Linked DNA regions of Homo sapiens. The protein of the gene in region 1 purifies or fractionates together with the protein of each later gene. This does not show direct contact. Each region holds a gene or a part of one and is shown on either strand. Other genes may lie near its edges.

The links.
Region 2: the proteins of C19orf38 (region 1) and OCLN purify together in Homo sapiens (co-immunoprecipitation; 2 studies listed by BioGRID and IntAct, with this or other methods). This does not show direct contact.
Region 3: the proteins of C19orf38 (region 1) and CCNY purify together in Homo sapiens (co-immunoprecipitation; 2 studies listed by BioGRID and IntAct, with this or other methods). This does not show direct contact.

What each region holds. Positions count from the first base shown.
Region 1 is NC_000019.10:10,843,810-10,851,423, reverse strand, and holds the start of C19orf38 (protein HIDE1 precursor), read right to left. Parts: upstream 3,010-7,614; 5' UTR 2,916-3,009; coding exon 2,885-2,915; intron 1,166-2,884; coding exon 857-1,165; intron 1-856.
Region 2 is NC_000005.10:69,502,733-69,509,841, reverse strand, and holds part of OCLN (occludin), read right to left. Parts: intron 5,666-7,109; 5' UTR 5,598-5,665; coding exon 5,548-5,597; intron 702-5,547; coding exon 23-701; intron 1-22. UniProt on the Homo sapiens protein: May play a role in the formation and regulation of the tight junction (TJ) paracellular permeability barrier.
Region 3 is NC_000010.11:35,528,509-35,535,617, reverse strand, and holds part of CCNY (cyclin-Y), read right to left. Parts: intron 5,646-7,109; coding exon 5,588-5,645; intron 5,495-5,587; coding exon 5,375-5,494; intron 1-5,374. UniProt on the Homo sapiens protein: Positive regulatory subunit of the cyclin-dependent kinases CDK14/PFTK1 and CDK16.

The DNA.
Region 1 (7,614 bases):
GGATGAAGTGAGCTATGATTGTGCCATTGCCCTCTAGTCTGCACGACCTTGTCTCATTTAAAAAAAAAAAAAAGCCAGGTGCAGTGGCTCATGCCTGTAATTCCAGCACTTTGGGAGGCTGAGGTAGGCGGATCATGAGGTCAGGGGTTCGAGACTGGCCTGGCCAACATGGTGAAATCCTGTCTTTACTAAAAATACAAAAATTAGCCGGGCATGGTGGCACACACCTGTAATCCCAGATACTCAGGAGGCTGAGGCAGAAGAATCGCTTGAACCAGGAGGCAGAGGCTGCAGTGAGCCAAGATCGTGCCACTGCACTCCAGCCTGGGCAACAAGAGCATAACTATCTCAAAGCAAACAAACAAAAAAAGTATGTGGCCAAGAGGGGAAGTAATGTATGTCACGGAGGTGTAATTCATGGTTTTTGGAAGGCAATGGCATCCCAGACTGGCTACCTGTTACCTGTGTACAAGGTGTGTACCTCCTGTGCCTCAGTTTCCTTATCTGCAAAATGGGAAGAATCACAGCACCAATTTTGGCACCAAGAGGGAGACGGGCTGCCTGACAATAAGACGGAGAAGAATGTGGAGCAGAGATGGGGCAAATGGTCCCTGACAGCTTTCAGCACCTGGATCTAGCCATACCTGAAGTCGGCCCTGTGAGCTGACTTAAGCTCAGTGAACCAACAAATCCCCTTTTGGGCTGGCTGAGAAGATTGAAAAAGGAAAGGCGAGTAAGTCCTGGCAGGGTGTAAGCCTGGCTTTTTCTGGGAAGGCCTCTGAGTCAACAGTACACACAAGAGGTCCATGTGAGAAAATTAAGCCCCCGGCAGTGAGATCCCATAGAAGGGCCTTACCTGGGAAGGAGACGTTCACGGGCTCGCTGAGGTCTGACAGCTGGGACTGGTTGAGCTCACCTAACACTCCATACTGGCAGTGGAAGGGTCCCCCTGGAGCCTTGCTGCTGCCGCCGCTCAGGTTAAATGTCACCCCGCGCTGGTCCGTGGGGGCCTGCAGGAGCTGGACCACCTGCCCCCCTCGATACAGTGTGAAATTCGCCCCCGGGAAGTTCCCAGGGGCCATGCATGCGATGTGGATGGGGTCCTCTTGGCTGCTTGGGTACGGGGGCACCAGCCGGATGGATGGTGCTGGGATCGCCAAGGAGCCTGCAATGCAGAGGGTAAGGTGGGTGGGTGCGTGGTGAGAGTGGAGGCTGCCCTGGCTATGTGGCCTCGGGCAAGTAGACCACCCTCCCTCAGCCTTGTGTTTTCTGTGAGTCAGGAGGCTAGTGACCCTACCCCACACTGCCTGGCACATGGTGACGGCTCCCTGTAGTTGAATTACTTTTCTTTTTTCTTTTTTTTGTGAGTCGGAGTCTCACTCTGCCACCCAGGATGGAATGTAGTGGTGTGATCTCGGCTCACTACAGCCTCCACCTCCCGGGTTCAAGTGATTCTCCAGCCTCCCAAGTAGCTAGGATTACAGGCATGTGGCACTATGCCTGGCCAATTTTTATATTTTTAGTAGAGATGGGGTTTCACTATATTGGCCAGACTGGTCTCGAACTCCTGGCCTCGTGTGACTCCCCCCACCTCGGCCTCCCAAAGTGCTGGGATTATAGGCGTGAGCTACCATGCCTGGCCATCAGTTTTCAATAATAGCATTGGTTATTACATAGCAACACAACTATACTCTTATTTTTTATTTAATTTATTATTACTTTATTTATTTATTTAGAGACAAAATCTTGCTTTGTCGCCCAGGCTGGAGTACAGTGGCCTCAGCCTCCTGAGTACCTGGGACTATGTGCCACCATGCCTGGCTAATTTTTATATTTTTAGTAGAGACGGGGTTTCACCATGTTGGCCAGGCTGGTGAACCTGGCTAGCTAATTTTGCTTATTTTGTGTAGAGATGGGATCTCACTATGTTGCCCAGATCCTCACCTCAAGTGATCCTCCCACCTTGGCCTCCCACGAGCTGAGTCCTGAGTGGTGAGGAAGGACCCATTTGGAGAGCTGGGGAAGGGCATTCCAACAGAGGGAACAGCATAGGCAAAGGTCCAGGGGATGGAAGGGGAATGGGGGTGTTTAAGGAGGAGCAAACACCTGATGCAGTGGCTCACGCCTGTAATCCCAGCACTTTGGGAGGCCAAGGTGGGAGGACTGCTTGAGCCCAGGAATTTGAGACTAGCCTGGAGAACACAGTGAGACCCTGTCTCTATTTAAAAATAAAAATAAATATTAAAAAAGGAGCAGCAAGGAGGCCATCATGGCAGGAGGGAGGGGGTGAGTGAGGTGGGTGGCAGGAAGGGGAGGGGGTGAGTGAGAGGGAGGGCAGGAGAAGGAAGGGCAGAGGACTTTTATCTCCTTTCCCAGGCTTGGGTGAAGAATACGGATTTTGGAGCACGGCTTCCTGCAGGATGGTCTCCTGGGGATCCATCTCTCTCCTGATTGCCCACAGGCTTCTGAGCAGAGTGTCTGGCCAGGTGAGGTCTATACAAACCCTCCCTCGTCCAGCCTCCAACCCCCACCCACCCCTGCCACACTGATATCCCCCTAGGTAGACCCTCCTGCTGCCCCAGCACTCAAGGAGCCTTCAGAGACGAAGCGGGGCTGAATCATGGGGTGTGGGCACAGCTGACTCCAGAGGGGTGATATTTCTGATATTCATAAACTTGGGGGTGATGAGGAGCCTAAGAAGAAAAAACCAACACTACTGGAGAGTTTCCAAGGCTCAGGGGGAAAACCCATCTGCCAAGGGCTCAGCCTCCTCGATGCCCTGAGAACGGCAGCCCCTGCACTGGTTTCTGCCCCTGGAGCGGCAAGGTGGACAGAGGATGGGGGGAAAGGCGTGGGGGATCTGAGAGGGGGGCTTCAGACTCACCAGCTGCAAAGAGCAAGATGGTCCAGGGCATCTCTCTCTGCGTTTGGCTGGGAAATCCGGCTGAGGCCAGAGGGGCCCAAGGCTCCCCGCCAACTCCTCCTGTGAGGCCAGATCGGGGAAAGGAGAACCAGGGCTGATTCTCGAGCTGAGAGTTTCCTCACTGGCAGGAAGTTGCACACACAGGCTTGGGCACTGAAAGGGACTCTCTCCCCTCCCCACCCCTTCCCCAAACACACATCAGACCCGCGCACCTCTCTGGTTGCGGTTCTGCAGATTAGAGGGGAAAAAAATGGATGAGATGTTTAGGTGGTTTTCACAATTTTTTCCTCTTTTTTTATTTTTATTTTTTGAGACAGAGTCTTGCTCTGTTGCCCAGGCTGGAGTGCAGTGGAGCGATCTCGGCTCACTGCAGCCTCCACCTCCCAGGTTCGAGTGATTCTCCTGCCTCAGCCTCCTGAGTAGCTGGGACTACAGGCAGGAGCCATCATGCACAGCTAATTTTTGTATTTTTAGTAGAGACGGGGTTTTGCTGTGTTGGCCAGGATGGTCTCGATCTCTTGACCTCATTATCTGCCCGCCCCAGCCTCCCAAAGTGCTGGGATTTCAGGCGTGAGCCACCGTGCCCAGCCTTTTGTCTCTCCTTCTAAGAGAACTCCTGGGAATGAGACAGGGTGACAGCAGTGGGATGTTTGGAAACCCATGCCCAAGACACAAACCATAGCCTAACCAGCACCAACATTTAAACAAATATGGGCAGGAGTGGGAGGACATGGTGGTTAGGGCTTGGCCTCTGTGACCTCAGGCATGGCTTACCTCCTTTGAGGCTTCAGTATACTGCTCTGCAGAATGGGGCTAAGAGTAGTAGACATTAGGCCAGACGTGGTGGCTCACGCCTGTAATCCCAGCACTTTGGGAGGCTGAGGTGGGCAGATCACCTGAGGTCAGGAGTTCGAGACCAGGCCAACGTGGTGAAACCCCGTCTCTACTATATACAAAAAATTAGCCGGGCGTGGTGGCACACGCCTGTAATCCCAGCTACTCGGGAGGCTGAGGCAGGAGAATCACTTGAACCCAGGAGATGGAGATTGTGGTGAGTTGAGATCGCGCCATTGCACTCCAGCCTGGGCAACAAGAGTGAAATTCCATCTCAAAAAAAAAAAAAAAAAAAAAGAGCAGTGGACATTAGATTCAAAGAACTTGTAGTAGGAAATGCAACGCCTAGTGGGTAGTGCATGCTCACAAGGTAAAGTTACAGGGAGGAAAAAGACTCAGAAGTTTGATCAGCCACATGAAAGGGAATACCAGTTCCAGATCAATTCTGGATATAGTTTGTGATATAGTTCACAGGATAAACTGCCTCCTGTTTACAGCCCAGAAACTTCCAAGTTTCTCTTACTACTGGGTTTGCATTTATCTTTTTAAACATTTCTGTTCAAGCCAGTCAGGTTTGCTTGGGGGTTTGGACCCAAGAAGGATGTGGCATGTGGTCATCAAACACCAAAATGCGTCATTAGAGTAAACTTTTTTCTTTGGACACAGAAAGTTCAATCCAACCTCAGGGCCTTTGCACACACTATTTCCCTGGCCTGGAACACAATTCTGTCAACCTGGTCAAATCCTGCTTCTCCTTCAGGTCTCAGTTTAAATAGCACTTCTGGGAAAACTTTCCAGGCCCCTCTGGACTTAGAACAATCCCCTAGCTAAATTCTCCCACAGTGCCCTGTAATATTCCTTTATTGCAATTGGCATGCTTGTATCTTCAAGGAATTTGCTCATTTCATCAGAGTTGTCAAATGTATTGGTGTAAAGTTATTTATATCCCCTTACTATCCTTTTAATGTCTGTAGGGTCTGTAGTGATGTTCCTTCTTTCATTCCTGACACATAAATTAGTGAAGTCTCCTTGTCTCTTATCGGTCTTCCTAGGAGCTAATCATTGTTATTGATCTTTTCAAAGTGCCACAGTTTGGATTTGTTGTTTTATTTTCTATTTTATTGCCTTTTGACTTGACTTTATTCTTTTCTTTTTTCTGGTTACCTTATGTTCAATTGGCTCTTCTTTTCCTAGCTCATGTTTTGTTTTTAAATTTAAACTTCACCAGCAGAAATTTGTATTAATAGCTTCTTAAGATGGATGCTTATATAAACTCTTTTTATTAAAAAAAAATTTTTTTTAATTAGCCAGATGTGGTAGTGGGTGCCTGTAGTCCCAGCTACTCGGGAGGCTGAGGCTGGAGAATGGCGTGAACCCGGGAAGGAGAGCTTGCAGTGAGCTGAGATCATGCCACTGCACTCCAGCCTGGGCAACAGAGCGAGACTCTGTCTCAAAAAAAAAACAACAAAAAAACATTTTTTTTTTGAGACAGGGTCTTGCTCTATTGCTCAGGCTACAGTGAAGCAGCATGATCATGACTCACTGCAGCCTCACCCTGCTGGGCTCAAGAGATCATCCCATCTCAGCCTCCTGAGTAGCTGGGACTACAGGTGTCCACCACCACACCTGGCTAATTAAAAAAAAAAAAATTGTAGAGACAGGGTCCTATTATGTTACCCAGCCTGATCTTGAACTCCTGGGCTCAAGCAATCCTCCTGACTCAGCCTCCCAAAGTGCTGGGATTACAGGCAGCTCATTAACTTTAAACCCTCTTTTTTTTTTTTTTTTTTGACGGAGTCTTGCTCTGTCGCCCAGGCTGGAGTGCAATGGCGTGATCTCGGCTCACTGCAAGCTCTGCCTCCCAGGTTCACGCCATTCTCCTGCCTCAGACTCCTGAGTAGCTGGGACTACAGGCACCCACCACCATGCATGGCTAATTTTTTGTATTTTTAGTGGAGATGGGGTTTCACCATGTTAGCCAGGATGGTCTCGATCTCCTGACCTCATGATCCACCTGCCTCGGCCTCCCAAAGTGCTGGGATTACAGGCGTGAGCCACCGCACCCGGCCCACCTTTATCTTCTAATACAAGCATTTAAAGGTACACCTTTCCCTCCAAGAACTGTTTTAACTGCATGCCACACATTTTCATATATTGAGCGTCATTAAGTTAGAAATATTTGCTTATTTCCATTGTGCTTTCTTTTCTATGATCCAGAGAATATGTGTGTTGCTTAATGCCCAAGTACTTGGGCTTTTTGGGGGGCAGCTTACTGTTAATGATTTTTAACTCCTTTGTGGTCATATAATTTCAATACTTTGAAATGTACTGACTTTTTAGAATGGTGCAGGGTATCTCGATCCACATTGTACGTACGCTAGAAATTCAAGTACACGGTGTAGTTGTTTGGTATAATATTCTCTAAATATTAATACAATTTGGTCAAGGTAGTACACAGAATATTCTTGAATTTATTGAATTCATCCTCATGCCTTTTTTTTTTTTTGGAGACAAGGTCTTGCTTTCTTGCCCAGGCTGCTGGAGTGCAGTGGTATAATCATGGCTCACTGCAGTCTCCATCTCTCAGGCTCAAGTGATCCTCCCACCTCAGCCTTCCAAGTAGCTGGGACCACAGGCATGCACGGCACCTGGCTAAATTTTTTTTTTTTTTTTGTAGAGAAAGGGTCTCACTACATTGCCTAGCTGGTCTCAAACTCCTGGGCTCAAGTAATCCTCCCACCTTGGGCTCCCAAAGTGCTGGGATTACAGGCGTAAGCCACCACCACGCCCAGCCTCCTTCATTTTTTTTTTTTTTTTTTGAGATGGAATCTCGCTCTGTCGCCCAGGCTGGAGTGCAGTGGCGCAATCTCGGCTCACTGCAAGCTCCACCTCCTGGGTTCACGCCATTCTCCTGCCTCAGTCTCCCGAGTAGCTGGGACTACAGGCAACCGCCACCACGCCCGGCTAATTTTTTGTATTTTTTAGTAGAGACGGGATTTCACTGTGTTAGCCAGGATGGTCTTGATCACCTGACCTTGTGATCTGCCCGCCTCAGCCTCCCAAAGTGCTGGGATTACAGGCGTGAGCCACTGCACCCGGCCTTTCTTTTTTTTTTTTAAACAGAGACAGGGTCTTGCTATGTTGCTCAGGCTGGTCATGAACTCCTGAGCTCAAGCAATCCTCCCACCTTGGCCTCCCAAAGTGCTGGGGTTACAGGCGTGAGCCACCACGCCTAGCTTTTTAAATTTTTTTTTTTTTTTTTTTGAGACGGAGTCTCACTCTGTTACCCAGGCTGGAGTGAAGTGGTGCGATCTCATCTCACTGCAAACTCCACCTCCTGGGTTCAAGCGATTCTCCTGCCTCAGCTTCCTGAGTAGCGGGGATTACACGTGTGCCACCATGCCTGGCTAATTTTTGTATTTTTAGTAGAGACAGGGTTTCACCATGTTGGTCAGGCTGGTCTTGAACTCCTGACCTCGTAATCTACCCACCTCAGCCTCCCAAAGTGCTGGGATTACAGGCGTGAGCCACCGTGTCCAGCCTTTTTTTTTTTTAGACATGGTCTCACTTTGTCGCCCCGGCTGGAGTGCAGTGGCGCAATCTCGGCTGCACTGCAACCTCCATCTTCCGGGTTTAAGTGATTCTCCTGCCTCAGCCTCCTGAGTAGCTGGGATTACAGGCATGCACCACTACGGCTGGCTAATTTTTGGATTTTTAGTAGAGACAGGATTTCACCATGTTGGCCAATCTGGTTTTGAACTCCTGACCTCGAATGATCCGCCCACCTCCCGAAGTGTTGGAATTATAGGCATGAGCCGCCATGCCCAGCCTTCATGATATCTTAACACAGCTTTCCT
Region 2 (7,109 bases), on another chromosome or scaffold:
AAACCCAAAACACCACTCATACCTCCTGGGGATCCACAACACAGTAGTGATACAAATACTGATCCACGTAGAGTCCAGTAGCTGCAGGTGTATAAAATTGGTTGCAGAGGGCATATATTTGTGAACCATATAGAGATCCAGAAGACTGAGCAGTTGGGTTCACTCCCATTATATAGACAATTGTGGCAATAAACACCATGATGCCCAGGATAGCACTCACTATTATCACACTTAAGTAGTATCTTCTTGTTCTGGACATTTCAGATCTTATAACACTGGTAACAAAGATCACCAACGCGGCAATGAAACAAAAGGCAGCCATGGCCAACATGAAGCCCTTTGCTGCTCTTGGGTCTGTATAGCCTCCGTAGCCATAGCCATAACCATAGCCATAGCCATAGCCACTTCCGTAGCTACCAAAGCCACTTCCTCCATAAGGGTAGCCTACACTACCTCCTAAAAGGGAAGTTCCATAGCCTCTGTCCCAGGCAAGCGTGGAGGCCACACAGGCAAAGATGGCAATGCACATCACAATAATGAGCATAGACAGGATCCGAATCACTCCTGGAGGAGAGGTCCATTTGTAGAAGTGAAGAATTTCATCTTCTGGGTAAAAAGAGTAGGCTGGCTGAGAGAGCATTGGTCGAACATGCATCTCTCCACCATATATGTCATTGCTTGGTGCATAATGATTCGGTTTGCTGAAATGAACATGAAAATAATTTCAAGTTAGCATTTTTTGGTAGTAAGCAGAAAGAACACAACTTATTTGGAATAATTTAAACCATTGGGTAAATGAAACTAAAGCTTATCTGTGCACAGGAATCACCTGGAGGGCTTGTTAAAACATAAGATTATTGGCCTCTAGCCACAACCCATTCTGCTCAGACATTTGGGTTATCTCTGTTTGGGGGTATTGTAAACAGTTTAACTATAAACATCCTTGAATGTGTATTCTGGTACGGAACAGTACTTATTTTTCTAGGGTATATAACCAGGAGAATTTCTGGATCACATATTTTTATATCTTCAACTTCACTAGACAGTATCAAACTGTTTTCCAAAGTGATTGTACCAATTACCTACAGTGGAATGGGTAACTGTAATATATCCATACAATGGAATACTCCATAGCTATACTGTCCAATGTGGCAGCCACTAGCCACTTGGGTCTATCATACACTTGAAATGTATCTAGTCCGGCTGGGCACGGTGGCTCATGTCTGTAATCCCAGCACTTTGGGAGGCCAAGGCGGGTGGATCACTTGAGGTCAGGGGTTCAAGACCAGCCTGGCCAACATGGTGAAACCCCATCTCTACTAAAAATACAAAAATTAGCCAGACGTGGTGGCATGCGCCTGTAATCCCAGCTACTCAGGAGGCTGAGGCACGAGAATTGCTTGAACCCGGGAGGTGGAGGTTGCAGTGAGCCGAGATCGTGCCATTGCACTCTACCCTGAGTGACAGAGCAAGACTCCGTCTCAAAAAAAAAGAAATGTGGCTAGTCCAAACTGAGATACGCTGTTAAAATGCACAGTGGAGAGTCTGAGGTGGGCAGATCACTTGAGGCCAGGAGTTTGAGACCAGCCTGGAGAACATGGTAAAACCCTATCTCTACTAAAAATACAAAAATTAGCCAGGCATGGTGACACATGCCTGTAATCCCACTTACTTGGGAGGCTGAGGCACGAAAATCAAGAATCCCTTGAACCCAGGAGGCAGAGGTTGCAGTGAGCTGCGATCACACCCACTGCACTCCAGCCTGGGTGACAGGGCAAAAAAATTTAAAAATGCACAATGGATTTCAAAGATATAATATGAAGAAAGAATGTAAAATATTTCCTGAATCATTCATTTTTTACATCAATCACGTGATGAAGTAATGTTTTAGATATACAAGATTAAGTGAAATATATTAAAATTAATTTCTTCTTTTGGCCAGGCACGGTGGCTCACGCCTGTAATCCCAGCACTCTGGGAGGCCGAGGCGGGTGGATCACCTGAGGTCAGGAGTTCGAGACCGGCCTGGCTATCCTGGTGAAACCCCATCTCTACTGAAAATACAAAAACTAGTTGGGCGTGGTGGTGTGTGCTTGTAATCCCAGCTACTTGGGAGGCTGAGGCAGGAGAATCACTTGAACCCAGGAGGTGGAGGTTGCAGTAAGCCGAGACCGTGCCATTGCACTCCAGCCTGGGCAAAAAGAGCAAAACTCTGTCTTAAAAAAAAAAAATTATCTTTTTATTTTTAATGAAAGTATAAAATTACATATATGGCTCATGTTATATTTCTACAGTGCTATGAAGCCAAAACTGATGAACTATGAATACATGCAGTTACAGGTAATGCTGAAAAAAATGAAAAAATACATATCGCATTATTATATTTACATAAAGTTTTAAAACAGGTAAAACTGGCCAGATGTGGTGGCTCACACCTATAATCCCAGCACTTTAGGAGGTGGGCGGGTCACCTGAGGTCAGGAATTTGAGACCAGCCTGGCCAACATGGCGAAACCCCGTCTCTACTAAAAGCATAAAAATTGGTTGTGCATTGTGGTGGTTACCTGTAATCCCATCTACTTGGGAGGCTGAGGCAGGAGAATTGCTTGAATCCAGGAAGTGGAGGTTGCAGTGAGCCAAGATTGTGCCACTGCACTCCAGCCTGGGCAACAAAGTGAGAGTCTGTCTCAAAAATAAATAAATAAAACAGGTAAAACTAAACTGAAATGTTTAGGATATACAAGATGATAAAATGATAAAAGCAGGTAATGATCATACGTCAGGACAGTGGTCTCCAGAGAAAAGGAGAGGACACAGGGAAGGACTTTGAAGTGTTCTGTTTCTTGACCTGGGTGATGAGTATGTATGTTTGCTTGGTCTTTCCTCATGATCTCCTACATATGTTCTGTGTCCTTTTCTTTATGTATGTTGCAGTTCACCATTATTTACAAAAGCAACACAAAATAAGTGTCAGATTAGTGGTGCATTACTCAATTACTATATTCTCTAGTATGTTTTAAAAACTGTATTGTCATAAACAACTTGTGTCCCCACCATGTTTTAGGCACTAGTAAGGAGGTTAAAGAACTGGAACACAACCTTCACGTGATATTGTAAAATATGTATTTAGTCTTCATCTCCATTTTCTGGCATACAACTCCTAAAATCTTTGGACTCTCCAAAGTGATAAGTATCCCTTATATGCTAATGAGATGATAGGTTCCTGGCAGCCCTAGGAAGCTTCAGGATGGGAGCTAGGATTAGAGGGTTGGAACTTTTCAGCCCCAACCCTCTCTGGACAGGAAAGAGGGGCTGAAGCTTAAACTGCTCACCAATGGCCAATGATTTAGTCAATCATGCCTATGTCATAAAGCTTCCATAAAAACCCAAAAGGACCGAATTCACAGAACTTCTGGACAGCTGAACATGTGCAAGTTCCTGGAGGGTGGCACAACCAGGGAGGGCTGCTTCCCACATACCTCGCCCTGTCCACCTCTTCATCTGGTGTTTGTTGGCATCCATTGTAATATCATTTGTTTGTTCATTCATTCATTCATTCTTAAAAGACAGGGTTTCCCTATGTTGCCCAGGCTGGCCTCAAACTCCTGGGCTCAAGCAATCCTCCTGCCTCAGCCTTCTGAGTAGCTGGGATAACAGGCATGCACCACCACACCTGGCTTTTGTAATACCCTTTATAATAAACCAGTAATGGTAAGTACTGTTTCCCTGAGTTCTGCAAGCCACTTTAGCAAATTAATTGCACCCAAGGAGACAACTGTGGGAATCCTGATTTACTGTAGGTGGGTCAGAAACACAGGCCACAACCTGAGCTTGTGGCTGCTACGTGAAGTGGGGGCAGTCTTGTGGGAATGAGCCCTGAACCTGTGATCTGATGCTATCTCTGACAGTGTCAGAATTGAACTGATAATTAGAGGACACACAGCTATTGTCCACTGTAGAACTGATTACTTGGTTGCTGGTGGGGAAATATCCCCACAAATTCTGGTGATCAGAGGTCACAGATGTGTTGTGACAGAACAGCAGGAGAAACTGTTTGTTTTTGCCTATATCACACTCCACTACACTTATCATGGTTAAAGCTGCAAACTACTTAGAGGAGGAAATCCCTATCAATGTTTGATAGCAAATTTGGAATTCAAAAATTCACTGATAAGTCTTCACATGACCAAGGAGCCCAAAACCCCTCAACACTGCTTGTTTTAGATCATGGCAGGAATCACTCTTAAAACTGACAGTATGGAAAGTATTATGCTAAGTGAAAGAAGCCAGTTACAAAAGGCCACATATTACGTGATTTCTCCATTTATACAAAATATGCAGAATAGACAAATCTATAGAGACAGAAAGTAGACCAATAGTTGCTTAGGGCTGATGGAACTGGGAGGTGACTGCCAATGGATAGGTTTCTTTGGAGAGTAATGAAATGTTCTAAAATTAATTGTGGTGATGGTTCTACAACTCTGTGAATATACTAAAAACCATTAAACTATCCATTCTAAATGGGTAAATTGTAAAGTATGTTAATTATATCTCAATAAAGCTGTTATTTTTATTTATTTATTTATTTTTTGAGACGGAGTTTTGCTCTTGTCACCCAGTCTAGAGTGCAATGGCGCCATCTCAGCTCACCTCAACCTCCGCCTCCTGGGTTCAAGCGATTCTCCTGTCTCAGCCTCCCAAATAGCTGCAATTATAGGCATGCATCACCATGCCCGGCTAATTTTGTATTTTCAGTAGAGATGGGGGTTTCTCCACGTTGGTCAGGATGGTCTTAAACTCCCGACCTCAGGTGATCCACCCGCCTCGGCCTCCCAAAGTGCTGGGATTACAGGCATGAGCCACCAGGCCTGGCCTTTTTTCTTTTTTTCAGACGGAGTCTCGCTCTGTCTCTAGGCTGGAGTGCAGTGGCGTGATCTCGGCTCACTGCAACCTCCACCTCCTGGGTTCAAGTGAATCTCCTGCCTCAGCCTCCCAAGTAGCTGGGATTACAGGCAAGTAGCTGGGATTAGAGGTGCGCGCCACCACAGCCAGCTAATTTTTGTATTTTTAGTAGAGACGGGAGTTCACCATGTTGGCCAGGATGGTCTCGATCTCTTGACCTTGTGATCCGCCAGCCTCGGCCTCCCAAGGTGCTGGGATTACAGGCGTGAGCCACCGCACCCGGCCTAAAGCTGTTATTTTTAAAAACTGACAATATGTTCCCAATGGCCACCTAAATGAGGCATTTAAATGGAAGCTTCATTATCATTTGTACAAAACAAAAAGGAACATACAAATATAAACCTTGGCAATCTCTTGAAACAAACATTAGGAATAGGTGACAGCAGTTGTCCTAGCAGAGACAAACTGTCATTCTGAAAGTTGAGAGAAATTCAGTTTTCAGTGCAGACCCTTTGATACAATTTAAATTTACAAGTACACATATCGTTTTATTTTTAAAAGCAAACACTTAAAGTTTCAACCATACTTATTGTTTACATGTGATAGACTTTTTAAAAGAGAATAACTAAAGAATTATTTACTTACAATTCATCAGGCCTGTAAGGAGGTGGACTTTCAAGAGGCCTGGATGACATGGCTGATTGTCAATGGTCAGCTGATCTTCAGGATGAGCAATGCCCTTTAGCTTCCAAGATAAACCAATCTAAGCAACAAAAGTAGAGTTATGGCATTACTACTAAGCTCACAGTTTCTTTCTTTTCTTCATCCCACCCCCACCCCGAGACAGGGTCTCACCCTGTCACCCAGGCTGGAGTGCAGTGGTCCAATCACAGCTCACTGCAGCCTTGATCTACCAGGCTCAAGTACTCCTCCTACCTCAGCCTCCCAAGTAGCTAGGACTACAGACCTGCACCACCATGCCTGGCTAATTCCTGTATTTTTTGTACAAAAATTTGAAATATATATAATTTCATATTACTTTTGAAAGTTCATATTAAATGAGAATGTATAAGAAAGTGCACATATAGCCGCACTAGCACATACTAGCTCCTCAATGCAAAGTAACCATCTAATGGGTTAAATGCCTTTATCATTAAAAATGATAATAAAATGCATCTATAAATGGTGGAATTGTAGATATTTTTCCCTTATCTCCTTTTCCAAGTCTTCGAAACTGAGCACAATTTTTATACAAGGGGAGAAAAAACAATATGCATGGTATTAATTGGTCATTTTCTGAAATTTTGTCCTAAAATTCTTCAGCACAAGTTCCTAAACATCTGAGGAGAAATTTCACTCAACAAGCATTTATTAAGTGCCTACACTAGACCAGGAGAGCCTGTGGGAGTGACGTATGACAGCCAGCGCTGGGGTCCTGGCTCTTCCAGGCTGGTGTGGTGCTGATAACACAGGTGGCTAGCTTATGGAACAGTGAAGTGGGAGCATGGTGGAATGGTGTCATCTTTTAAAATAAGGTTACAGTAAGAATATAGTGGATGGAGGATGAGTAAGAAAAGGGAGGGCTTTGAAAGTCTAGTGGGAGTGTCTCACTTCCTTCAGGTAGGAAACAGGGAGCCAGTTCGTGATTCTCGGCAAGGGAGGTGTAAGTTTGATTTGAACCAGATTTGAAAGACAAAGTCAACAGTAAAAAGGAGCACCTACAGTCAGCAGCAGCAAACCTAGGTGTGAGGCAACAATGAAGGACTAGCTTAGGAGACAGAAGATAGGAAGGAAACTAACATTCATCAGACACCTACCGACGTGCTGGGTGCTTTACATAAAACCTCCTTTCATCCTCAAAACGACCCTCCATGGTTGATTAGTCACTTTACAGATGCAAAGAGGGTCAGAAAGAGATGTGAAGTAATATGCTCAAGGTTATATGGATGTCAGTGAGTCACTCAGATGTAACTTGAACCCAGATGATTTCATGTGCTTTTCACTATGCTAGTTTGAAACAATGAGTTCCATTTGGGAAACACCAGTTTTTGTGGGGAGTGCACATCTGGTGTTAGCATCCATGAGGAAGTGAAGATGGAGGTCATCTGCCTACGTCCGTAGGTGGATCCATGGGCACTGAGAGCTCTCCAGGAAAAAGACAAGTCTCAGCAAGATGTGGTAAACACACAACCCCCTAACCTATAAAG
Region 3 (7,109 bases), on another chromosome or scaffold:
CTGAATCTTCAGGTGCAAAGCCCTTGTACAAGGAGGGCCAACACTCACTCTGTCTCTCATACATATACGTATATGTATACATATACGTATACATACACATATACATACACATATAGGGAGAGAGACAGAGAGAGCCAAAAGCCTGTGGGTTGTGACCAACTCAGCATTCCACTGGAGGCTATATGATCAAACAGCAAACTGTTTATCATGAATGCAGGATGTGGGCAAACTCACAACTGCACCTGCCACCAGAAGGTTTGTTGAGTGTAATCACTCCCTGGTGCCGTGCTCCTTGAGGTTATCTACTGGAACATCTAGAGACTACTGTTCAGAGAATGCAGCTGTGCAGGCCTGCTCTAAGTCAAGCAGCTGACTGACAACCACCCCCTTCTCTGTATCTCCTTTACTCAATAAATACGAAGGGCTATAGAAGCTCTGGGCCCTTGTTCACTAAAAGCAAGGAGCCCCCTGACCCCTTCTTCCAAATACATTCTTTTGTCTTTGTCTTTATTCTCACGTTCATCCTCCTTTGTTCACTCCAACAGGGATTAGGGCTGCAGCATATATATAGATCTATATATACATACACACACACACACACACACACACACACACACATATATATAGATCTATATATATATATGTGTGTGTGTGTGTGTGTGTATGTATCCCCACTCAATGGAATATTATTTGCAATAAAAAAGGACATACTATACATGCTACAACATGGATGAATCCCAAAAACATATGCTAAGTAAAAGAAGCCAATCATGAACTATCATATGAGATACTATTGATATGAAATGTTCAGAATAGGCAAATGACATAGAAATTTGATTAGTGGTTTCCTGGGCCTGGGTGGAGGCTAAGAACGAGGAGTGAATGCCAAAGGGTAAGGGGTTTCTCTATGGGGTGAAGGGAATATTCTGAAATTAGGTTGTAGTGATGGTTGTACAATGTACTAAAACCCACTAAAATGCTCACTTTAAATGGCTGAATTGTATGGTATATAAAATATGTCCCAATAAAGCTATTAAAAAATAGGAAATAAAGAAAGGGACCACACCCCCTCCTGTCTGGTCAGCTGTCACTTTGCCACCTCGATCTCTTCTTGGTTCCCCTTCCCTTATGCCGGAATCCCTCCATCAATCACCAACTTCCTCTCTTTCTCCCTCTCCCATTGCTGTGGCTCTACAGACAGAACTAACCTCACACGGAATGCTCAATCAAGGTTCAGTTGAGTGATGTCCCCGAAGTTGACGAGTTTTTTTCTGTCCCTTCAGAAAGCTTAAGCAGGGCTGGGTGTGGTGGCGCACGCCTGTAATCCCAGAACTTTGGGAGGCTGAGGTGGGCAGATCACTTGAGGTCAGGAGTGACCAGCCTGGCCAACATGGTGAAACCCCCTTCTCTACTAAAAATTCAAGAAAAATTAGCAGGGCATGGTGGCGCAAGCCTGTAATCCCAGCTACTCAGAAGGCTGAGGCAGGAGAATCGTTTGAAACTGGGAGGTGCAGGGTGCAGTGAGCTGAGATTGTGCCACTGTACTCCAGCCTGAGCAACAAAGTGAGACTCCATCTCAAAAAAAAAAAAAAAGTTAAGCAATGAAATGAAATGTGTCAATGTTCTAAAACTACTGGGGCAGGGGAAGATAATAAATAGGTATTAAATGATCCTTATGTTTCAGGCACATCACCACCATGTACTTCAGCCAGTAGGCAGTTATTACTGTGCTCACTACATGTTCAACAAATACTTACTGAGCATTCATTATGAGCTGGGCTGTGTTCCAGATGTTGGTCGTATTGTAGTAAACCACATGGACAAAAAGACCAGACATTTCTTACGCATGGGGCTTACTGACAAAACAATAAAATTAATGACTTCAACCTAAAGCATGCTGACAGGTGATAAGCAAGTGGAGAAAAAGCAGGAAGTGATGAGCAGGGAGTGCGGTGCAGGAGGGAGGTTGCAACTTCAGATATGGTGGCCAGGCAACAGCCCCCTGATGTGCCCTTTGAGCAAAGATGGGGAGGAGGAGGGCAGGACGCATCTCAAACACACCTGGGACAGAGGGAGCTGGGTGCCAAGGGGTGGAGGAAGTCCTGAGGTGCAGAAGTCCCGAGGCAGGTGTGTGTCCGGTACATCCAGGGAACAGAGCAGCTGCAGCATGACACTGAGGAGAGTGGAGGCAGCTGGGCAGAGATGGGAGGCTTAATCTTGCTAGGCCCCGTCAGTAACATAAGGGCTTTGTGTTTTCCTTTGAGGAAGATGGGAACCACCACAGGTTCTGAACAGAGGAGCGTGCAAAGTGAGAAAAAAAAGAGCAGGACCAAGCTCCTTCAACTCTGGGTCATGACTGATTTTTCTACAGATGAACATCTGACCCCAAAGGAACTGGGGCCAGTCAAAATCTCCCCTCTCCAAAACTGAAAGAGGAGACTGGGTTAGAGGGTGTGCGGCCTTAAACGGAGAGGTGATGAAGGGTGGGGAAAGCTATTAATACTGTCCTGCCACATCCCATCCGAAGCAAGAAAGCCGACCTGCACATTAAGGCCCCAGAGCCACAGCAGTGCGCAAAGGTGAGAGAAGCAGCCCAAAGGAAGAGAAACCTGCAGTGGGCCTCATTCTACAGCCTGATGTCCTTCCAGACCTACAGGACAAGGGATATGCGAGACCTGCCTGGACCTTCCAATATATCTCCTTCTGCCTTGGCCTCTGGCTTTCTCATCCTTCCAACAGAAGATCCCAGTTCAGACAGGCAATGAGCTTTTCATGTTGTCGAAGTACCGCATAGGACTAAAGTGGGTGCCATGCATGGTTCTCAGGATCAGTCAGCTTGGGTGACTCCTGAGGGAAGGGAAGGGCCTCGTGGAGGGGCAGCTGGATGCCAAGGCCTTTCTGCCCACTTCACTGCAGGCCTGGCTTCCTCCAGCTGCTGCAGGTACACCACAAAGGCCTCTACATAACTCATCAAGGTGCAAATCAATTACCTCACTCCCTTTCAAATTTCCTCATGTGGCAGTATCCATAGGAGAGCTTTCAGCATATTCTAGGAGGCTAAAAAATACACTTAGTGATCTAAGTTATTGTTACTCTTTTAAAAGGAAGTTGATTAAGCTGTGAAATATTTGCTTTGGGTGAAGTAGGTTTGGGTGTTTGAAGGGCCTGTAGGCTCTCTGTCCACAGCAGGCTGCAGTCCTACTCCGTGTGGGAAGCACGGCCAGGGCTAACTGCTCTTCCTCCTCCATTGCCTGCTGAGCAGCATGCCAAGATGCCAAACACATGCCCAGTGAAAATAAGGGCTTAATGAATGCATCTCTGTCAACTCCAGGCCAGACTTGTCCTGAATGACTGTTTCTAACTCTAGGGAACACGAGGAGGGAAGAACAATCCTACAAGAGTCTTGCTCAAGGCACACGTCTCTGTGCCCTCTACCCACAAGCATGCAGCTGCGCTGATGAGCCTCAGCAGACAGCAGAGACCAGAGGATGGGCTGCAGGGCTGCACCTACCACGAAGGCCTCCAAGGCTGCTCCTCTCCAGCTGCAACCAACAAGACCCCCATACAAACTGGTATCCTGGTCAACACCAGTCTATTTCATAGGACAAATGAAGATTTCAATAGTTACAATTATTCACAAGAAAAGTGCCAGTCCTACACTACTCCAAAGAAATGAACTCATCAGCCCTGTCACCTTTGGTGAGTGATGCAGAGGGCAGCAAGGGATGCCTGTTAGATGTTCTCTCAAGGCAGACACTGGGTGAGCTGTGGGGTTTAAATGCTGGCCCTGAACATCCTTCAAGCTAAATAATAATCCCGACCAGGAAGGCACTATCTTTCACAGCCAGGCCATATTTTTCTTAGGAATTAAAGGTAGAAAAAATCCCCGCCACTTTCCATCTACAGCAACTTCAAAATAAATCCTTCCTCATGGCATGTATTCCAGTACTAATTTCATCTATGGTTTCATCTGCTTTTCTTAATCTTCTTTTCCCTTCACTGAATTTCCCTACATAAAAATCTCAACCCTGTTGCCCTGTTGCGTGTTTTGGTTAGAACTTAAAATCCCTTTGAGGAACAAAGCTGGGCAGTACATACATTACTCAATTATGACATAGGAACCTGCAATCATTCCTAATCATCTAATGATTACTTGATTGTCTGTTCTATTATCCTTCAGGCTGTGAGTTCAATGAGAAGGAATGAACAAACAGATGAACAGATGAATGAATGAGCAACAAGCCAACAGGGTTTCTGTTCAGTTAGCCTCGGAGCACACAGCTCTTCATGTGGCGGAGACACAAAGAGTCCTTCGGTCGCCTGTAAAGCTTCTACTAGACAATTGTCTCTTCTCAGAAACTACAGGAAATGGTATTCTGATCTCCAGGATAGCTCATGCACAGGCAAAGCTAATTTCTCATCTAAGTTATACACAATGTAAAAGGTCAGTGACAAAAAGGGTTCCATTGTTAAATCTATTTCCCAAGTGAGATTTGACCTAAATAGTGCATAACATTTTAAGAATCCAAGTAAGAATACTTTTTCTTTTGAGACAGGGTCTCGCTCTGCCCCTCGGGCTGGAGTGCAGTGGCATGATCATAGCTCACTGCAGCCTGACCTCCTGGGCTTAAGTGATCCTTTCACCTCAGCCTTCCAAGTAGCTGGGACCACAGGTACGTGCCACCATGGCCAGCTGACTTTTAAATTTTGTAGAGTCGGGGTTTCACTATGTTGTCCAGACTGGTCTCAAACTCCTGGGCTCAAGTGATCCTCCCACCTTGACCTCCCAAAGTGCTGAAATTACTGACGTGAGCCATGGAGCCCAGCTGTAAAAACAAATTTTTATTTTTTCTTGAGTCTTAAAATATACGTTACCTCCATACTGTCTCTGAATATCCTGCAGACACATTTACTCAAAAGTCACAAAACAGAAGCTAGGAATATACACACTCCTTCCTAGACAAGTGTTCATATAAGATGAATGTATTCATCATATCTTACTAATACTATTACAATCTTTGTAGGGAATCAACACCAGGAAACCTAGACGTATACAGGGAGTACCTTGGCCATATAACCACTCTCTTAGCCCTACTGTTTTACTTACCTGCATTTTTAATTTCAGCATTTCCTGGATTTGAACGTGATTTCACAAATGACTTTAGGTGGGGGCTACAGAACAATCTTCACAATCTCTTCCGGGATATCTATCCTCTATTCTCCCAGGAGAACGACAACACTGAAGCTTATGCCACGGTGTCCACAGGGTAACCTGGTGAGGATTCCCTGCTCCAACCTCACTCCGCTGAGTAACAGGAACGGGCCCTGGACCACCTCGGCTGGGGATGGGTGTGGCCATCCTGAGGGCACTCACCAGGGTGACGATGGCACATTCAGCCGTCAGCTGAGCAGCACTGAACAGTGTCCGAACGAACCGGTAAATCTGCTTCTGCTCTGGGTTGTGTTTGTCATAATCTGGTGGCACTTCGGATTTCTGGGGAAGAAAATATTTTCAGATGACTGATCTCCCGATTGGAGCAAAAGAGAAATAATTAAATCATCTCATGAAACACACGGAGGAGATTACCGAAAGAGGGTGAAGATTTTCATCAAAAATATCTAAGAGCATCCTTCCATCTGGGTCCCTGGTAGGGAAAATAATAGAAAATGAAACTTACTTTCTGCAAGAATGTCATTCAAATAAAACAAAAATACATTTTAATTCAATGACTTTTTTTTTTTTTTTGGGATACGGAGTCTCACTCTGTTGCCCAGGCTGGAGTGCAGTGGCGCCATCTCAGCTCACTGCAACCTCCACCTCCTGGGTTCAAGTGATTCTCCTGCTTCAGCCTTCCAATTAGCTGGGATTACAGGCACACAACACCACACCCGGCTAATTTTTTTTTTTTGTATTTTTAGTAGAGACAAGGTTTCACCATGTTAGCCAGGCTGGTCTCGAACTCCTGACCTCAGGAGATCCACCTGCTTTGTCCTCCCAAAGTTCTGGGATTACAGGTGTGAGCCACTGCACCCAGCCAATTCAACTATTTCAAGAAACACAAGTCAGTGCTAAATGGTTATTCATGAATAATGATTTTTCTTGGGTGCAATACTTAATCACTTATGATTAAAATAGCCCAAGGAAATAAAGGTTATAAACCACACTTAGCTAAATTAAGTAAAAATTTAATTTTAATTTTTTGAGTTTTCAAATGAATCGAATCTAGGCAAATGACTTAAATTTGACATCTTATTTCCAAGCAAAGGTTGTTGGATCTGCTTAAGCCATCAACATACTGTGGGTGATAGGAAAGAAGCGCCAGGGTAAGAATGAATATCAATGTATCCTAGAGATCAGTCTGATTATTCACAACACGCAACGTCACTACTTCATTTAAGTTTCACAATTTTATACTGAAAAACAACAGGTGACAGATAAAAAGTCTTTAGTCAATAACCTATATGTGAACAGTTAGCTCTTACCAGGCTGGTACGTGCACAGAACCACTTAAAGAGGTAGCTTTCACTGTGAACACAGTACCGTGGGCCGCTGGGCTCTGCGGGGACCCTCCGTACCTCACGAGTGACAGCTCTACTTTCATCTGTTATATGAAATTTAAGTTTTGCCTAAAAAATTTTCTTTAAACAACCAAACTTGGAAATGACAGCTTTTGGCTAGCTGCATGTAATTTCCATAGTCTGTGCTTCAGTGTCAGGCTTCAGAACTTCAGAAGGCTACAGACCTGTCCCTAACACACACTTATCATGACAAACATTACAATTTCTGCTTTAGAAATTTACCATCTGTGTAAAAATAAAAGAGAAAGAGCTTAACAAAACAGCTCAATTTTCATTCCTACATTTGCACAACAGCAATTATTATTATTATTTTTTGAGACGGAGTCTTGCTCTGTCACCAGGCTGGAGTGCACTGGTGCAATCTCGGCTCACTGCAACCTCCACCTCCCGGGTTCAAGCGATTCTCCTGCCTCAGCCTCCTTGTAGAGGCTGCCTCAATATCCCTTGTAGCTGGGATTATAAGCACGCGCCACCAGGCCCAGCTGATTTTTGTATTTTTAGTAGAGACGGAGTTTCAGCATGTTGGCCAG